Regions from separate parts of the Homo sapiens genome. Here region 1 is linked to region 2. Evidence: fine-mapped expression QTL. A gene starts in region 2. The other region holds a variant in brackets. All regions are shown on one strand. Distances are from middle to middle.

Evidence for each region.
Region 1: its variant is fine-mapped to the expression of TPO in fetal neocortex (Walker 2019, PIP 0.95).

The regions. Positions count from the first base shown.
Region 1 is chr2:1,371,131-1,374,048 of GRCh38, forward strand. It overlaps a transcript of TPO not described here. Among named protein-coding and RNA genes, the nearest start is that of TPO, 41 kb to the right of the region's middle. The variant A/ATGGATGGGCAGCTTGGG (reference allele first, on the strand shown) is at 1,400.
Region 2 is chr2:1,412,121-1,414,968 of GRCh38, forward strand. It overlaps TPO (thyroid peroxidase), which reads left to right and starts at 1,343. Exons shown (of 17, transcript NM_001206744.2): 1 at 1,343-1,425; 2 at 2,288-2,382. The coding sequence starts at 2,289.

The DNA of each region.
Region 1 (2,918 bases), 41 kb before region 2:
TGTTTGAATATGAGACAGCGATCAGCAAATGCCTTGTAACAATCGTCCAATCACTGATACCGCCCATGACCCGTTGTTTGCGTTCTCAGCCTATTTTCATGTGTTTCTTGACTGTTTTCTTCCTCCAGGACTCCCTGCGTATCACAGCAGTGCCAGAGGAATCACGGCAGTTAGCCGGAAAGCTAGTTTACCCCTCCGGGCCCATAGTTCTTGGGAACTGATGTTCAGCTCTTCTGATTTGCTGACAGCTTCTCATAAATGTATAACCACGAATCCTGCCCTGCCCTTGCTGGTGGAGGGACCATTTGATTATTGTCCATTCAGACAGATAAAACTTAGGACAGGATTTTTCAAAACAGATATAAGATGGAGAACATTTCCATGTTGTTCTGGTTTGCTGCTTTCAGTGTTTGGGACAAGAGATAGACAGGTGGAGGGTACATAACCCCTCCCCCGATGCCCACAATCCCCACAGGTTTCCGACCTGACTTTTAAATACAGTTGTCAGCACACTGGCTGTCAAAACCAGAGGAGCCAAGGCTTGGAAGACTGTTGGCTTAGGAGTTGGGAGAACTCTGTGTCCTTTCTGAGGTGACCACAAGCAAGTTTAAACCCGTGTGAAGAATTTACCATGTTTAACTCTTTTGCTCATATATGGAATAGAAAAAGTCACAATCCCTGTTCTTCACCCCCTCACAACCTCATTATGGGCATCAGGTGAGAAATCTGGGAGGAAGTTCTCAGCAAACCAGGAAAAGTGGGTTTTGAGATTTGAGCCGGTGCCTGCCATCTCTAAGGGTGTCCTTATCCATGCAACCAGGTGCCTCCTGAAGTTATGAATGGAATCTGTGCACACACGCTAGAAAAGCAGCAGGAAGCATTCACAGGCAGCACCATTTCCCTAAGGAAAAGCACTTTCTATCTGTGAAAAAGGCCCCGATAGACGCGGGCTTAGAAACATAAGTTCCTCATTTCAGTGAAGCGCTTGCAAGCACTCCCTATCAGCAAGCTGGAGAAGTACACACAGAAAATGCAGGTTACGGTGGAAAATGAAGACATGCCTGGCACATCGTCAGGAGCATGGCTAAGTCAGAGACCCAGAGGCGGCATATGCTGAAGTACAAAATTAACACTTTGTAAAGCCCTTAACAGGTTAAAACCCTGGGATAAACTAACACAATCGATGTTTTAGAGAAGAAAGTACTATCATTGAATTTTAAAAAAGAAAAGATTCAAGGGGAGCCCGGTCTCCCAAACAGTAGCTGTTGGGAGAAGCATGTGGAACATTTAGGTGAAAGTGTTTTTGATCCATTCAACAAGTATTTGTAGAGCATTAACCCGGGGACCAGGCACTGTGACAGGTGCTGCAGCCACGGCCTTGGGTGGATGGGCAGCTTGG[A/ATGGATGGGCAGCTTGGG]TGGATGGGCAGCTTGGGTGGATGGGCAGCTTGGGTGGATGGGCACCTTGGATGGATGGGCAGCTCACAGGCTGGGATAAGCCATGGCACATAGCTGCTGAAAACGCCGATGTCATTCTGGTGCTCACCGTGAAGGAAGATGGGCAGACAATGGCTTGCCCCTCGCCATGCACCCAGAACCGGTCAGTTCACACAGGAAACGTGGACTTTTGTTCTGGGAGCCATGTTTCAAGAAGGACACTGACACACTGGTTCCCAACAGGTGGTCAGTTTTGTATCAGGTGCTTCCTTTAAAACACAACTCCACAGCACATGTCAGGAACTAGGGTTTTCATAGAGCAGGTAGGAAGCTATCCTGCTGTACACCCCTCTGGACAATCTGTACAAAGTGCACAGTAATTTTGCCACCTTAGCAGAATTTCCATAAACTGGATTATATTATAATGGGTTTTTTGTGTTTTTAATCTTAAAACTCAGAGTCAATACTCTTTCTCACTATTAATAGAGTGTACATATGGGAGTTTGGGTATAAACACGGGATAGAATAAATATAACTGACCTTATACATGTATCCTACACACTATCTCTACTATGTCATTTTTTTCTCTGTGAAACTGTGTGAGTCTGGGTGGGACGTAGCATAAGACGGACTACATGACTCTTCGAAATTCAGGTTACCCCAAATCTTTTCCAACAGGACAATCTTTTTAAAAGCACAGATAGATGAATACCTACTTTGTGCAGGGTATATAATAATGAAATGTCACAGAAAACTCAAACACAGGAAAGTGTGGGTGGCAGTTTTACCATTGTGGGAATGATCCCCCATCCAGGGCACAGCCTCAGCATCTTTTCCTATGCCTTTAACTTCAAAGGTCCATGGACAGTCCAAGCTCCAGGCCCAGAGGTATTACAATACGCAAACTAAAATACAGTTGTTTGTGGTGAAGAAAAAGTTGAAACAGTTTTAAGATGAATATATGTAGCTTCAAAATACTTAAGCCAACTGTAGATGATATTGTAAAAGATAAGCTGCTACCTGAAACCTATCTTGATGGGCCATTTCAGTTTCAGAACTAACATGCTGAGTGTTGTAAACAGCAGTTCTTGCCCCATGGCAGATCTAAAAGTGCCTGTGTCCGTTGGGAAGAAGAACGGTATTTAAAAGCCGTCTGAAATAAGCCTCATGGGAAAACAAGTCCACTGCCGCCCCTCCCACAGTCTCTCCGCTCTCCCTGCATCAGCCAGTGGTTCACACTGAGGACACACAGGTGAATCACGTTGAGAATTCCCAGCAGAACCGTAGTTTTCTCCCCAGCTGGCATCTCAGATCAGCCCCGTGGCTGATTCCATGGTGGGCGGGGAAAAGGGACCTACTTCACAATGACTTCCATCTGGGCCATGAGAGGAAGACTTGCCCCCGGCCAACAAGTATCCGAGAGCTGGAAAGGCCGCGTGAGCAAACAGACAAAACCTGCACTCGCCTCCCTTAAATTGAGGGGAAATCCTGGAGAAACGC
Region 2 (2,848 bases):
CACTGCCCGCCTGTGCCACGGGCACCTCCAACACAATTCCAAGCCTGAGTCTGCTGCTCCTTTGCTTGTCACAGCCAGTCTCCTTTCTTCTCTGGCCTTCCTAGGGCCAGTACATGAGATTTTCACTTGCTTAGGCATCAAACCGAGGATGGCTGAATCCTCAGAGGCTCTGTGCTTTTCTTCTGTTCCCAACAGTAACTCATCATTGAGCCATGGAATCCTCTTTAATGAGCCACCGAGTCTGGTCCTTCCTCTCTATCCAAACCCCACCCTCCTAGTGACCATTCTCAGGGTGCGTGGGGGGATTATATCACTGTTGGCTGATCTCCTCCCTGCTCTTCAGAGCTTGTCTAACTCATTTGTTATCTTCACCCATTTGAGGGGTGAGTGATGAGGATTGAGGGGAGAATGTTAAAGGCAAATCATCACATTCTTGGGCTTCAGAACATCTTCTAACAAAGATTAATGTTCTGAAGCCTTTGCATCGTGTTTTAGCATTTGGTTTCAAATTACCTAGAGGAAGCATCAGTCACATTTGGAGAAGGGAAAGAAAAGGAGAAAGATGAAGATGATTTTCACAAACTAGAAACCCATAGGACTTCCGGGGGCATGAAGAGGCTCCAAGTCTCAGGAGCAGGTCATTGAAGATGTGTTATTTTATCATTTTCATGATGAGATACAGCCTGAAAGCAGATCACCCATGAAAACATGTCATCTCCCAGTGTTCGGAATGCAGTCATGGTGACCTTCCTACAGAACATCTCTGTCTTTGTGGGGACTCTTTTGATGGGTGCATGATGAGGATTGAGGGGAGAATGCATGCTGGTGAACACACACTGAACTGTGCTCATTTTTCACCTCAACAAATTGGAAAAAAGTGTACTTTATTCACCTCTTAGTGATAAGAAAACTAGGGGCTTGGGGACAGGAAGCAAAAGGCTCAGAGTTGTAGAGCGAGTCATCGGTGGGCCTGGGAGCTGCACCCAACCCAATCCTCGGAAGATTAACAGCCCCTTTTTCACAGGGTATTTAACTGTGAAAGTAAGAGGGAGGAAAATGCAAGTGTCACAAGTCTGGATTTAGTTGGTTTATTCTTTCTCCCTGTATAATTTTTCCCCTCTTCTTCCTAACTCATTCGGCCAGAGGCTGGACTGCATGTGGACCCCGATGACATGGCACTTTGTTTCTGACCAGTCAGGACACACAAGAGGCCCGGCGCAAACACAACAAAGCCCGCAGACATTCTGTCCCCACGAAGAACGGACGCCACTCGACTTCCTAGCATCTTGACGGGCTATCCAAGCGCGGAGTCAGTTTATAAGGTGGGTAACCAAGTCCCTGGAAGGCAATTAAGGCGCCCATTTCAGAAGAGTTACAGCCGTGAAAATTACTCAGCAGTGCAGTTGGCTGAGAAGAGGAAAAAAGGTCAGGTTGTAAAGCTTTTTATTTTTCCATTTTCTAAGAGAAATTCATCATTGGAACTTGTAAAGTGGCCCAAGAGTGGCTGTAATTTGGGCCATTATAGCAGGTATGGGTGGCGTCTCTCAGCAAAGCTGACTGACTGACTGATGAGTGCTGTTTGCAATGACCTCCGCTGGAACATGTGAGTCCTGTAGGGTCGATTCCTAGATCACCGTCTACTGAGACACATTCCTGTCAGCATGGACTCACTGGTGCTATCCTGCTTAACAAAATTAGTGGCTCAAAAATAGCCACAGAAAGCCTAAGAGAAGAAAACAAGGATTTGAAAGTAGAAATGATGAATTTTGAATCTTCTGTTTTGTCTTAACAACTAGAATTCTAAAATCATTTTATGGACATAAGAATGCTTTAAGAAATTCAATAGGCATTTAGGGGTTTTATTTATCACTTTTATAAAGACTAAATTTCTAATAGTACTCACTTTTTGCCACATAGATGCATTAGGGGAAACAGATTTTTTTCATTCCCAATAATTATTCCCAGTACTGTTACACTATTTGACATTACCAAAAATTTAAATAGGTTATTACTGAGATATATTGGCAACTGGAGCTGCCAACATAAAAACTCTGTTTTTGAATAATGGGGGCCTGGGAGGCCTGCTCAGCGCTGCAGTTTCTGTAACCTCCTGACATGGACGGCGACTCTGGTCTCGCAGACCCCAGGCCTGTGAGGGTCGCTCACTGCGGTAGAGGCTGCGTGGAGTCAGTGGAGGGAGCCCCTCAGCAGGGAGACAAGGACACAGCGGTTCCCATGGCCTTGTCAGTGCTTGATTACATACTCTGTCTCCTTCCGTTAATTTTAGAATGAGAGCGCTCGCTGTGCTGTCTGTCACGCTGGTTATGGCCTGCACAGAAGCCTTCTTCCCCTTCATCTCGAGAGGGAAAGAACTCCTTTGGGGTAAGTAGCAAACACATTGCGGTCTTCTGGCCTTATAAAGTTATTTTTCACACTTACTAAAATAGAGGGCATAATGGTAGCTCCTGAGAGTCACTTTAGGCCCCTGTAGTGTATGCTTTGTTATGCTTAAGAAAAAAAAATTGTAATTCTTGATTTTAGAAGGATTGAAATATGTACATTTCTTTCTTTAAAAAAGAGCTGATTTTCCTTGGATGACACAATAGACAATTTTCACTTTTACCTATTCATATAACTGAAAAAAAAATTCTTTGGGAGTGTTTTTCTTCCTTTGCTACAGAATTATTTTTTATTAAATAACTTCTGTGATGTATTTTCTGGAATCAGTGTGCTACTATGTGAAAACAAGTTAAGAAAGCTACTGAGATGCAGTGGTTAAAATAATCACAGATCAAGCTCTTTGCTTTTCTTTTAATAAAATAAATAAAGTTCCAAACCCTGAGAACAA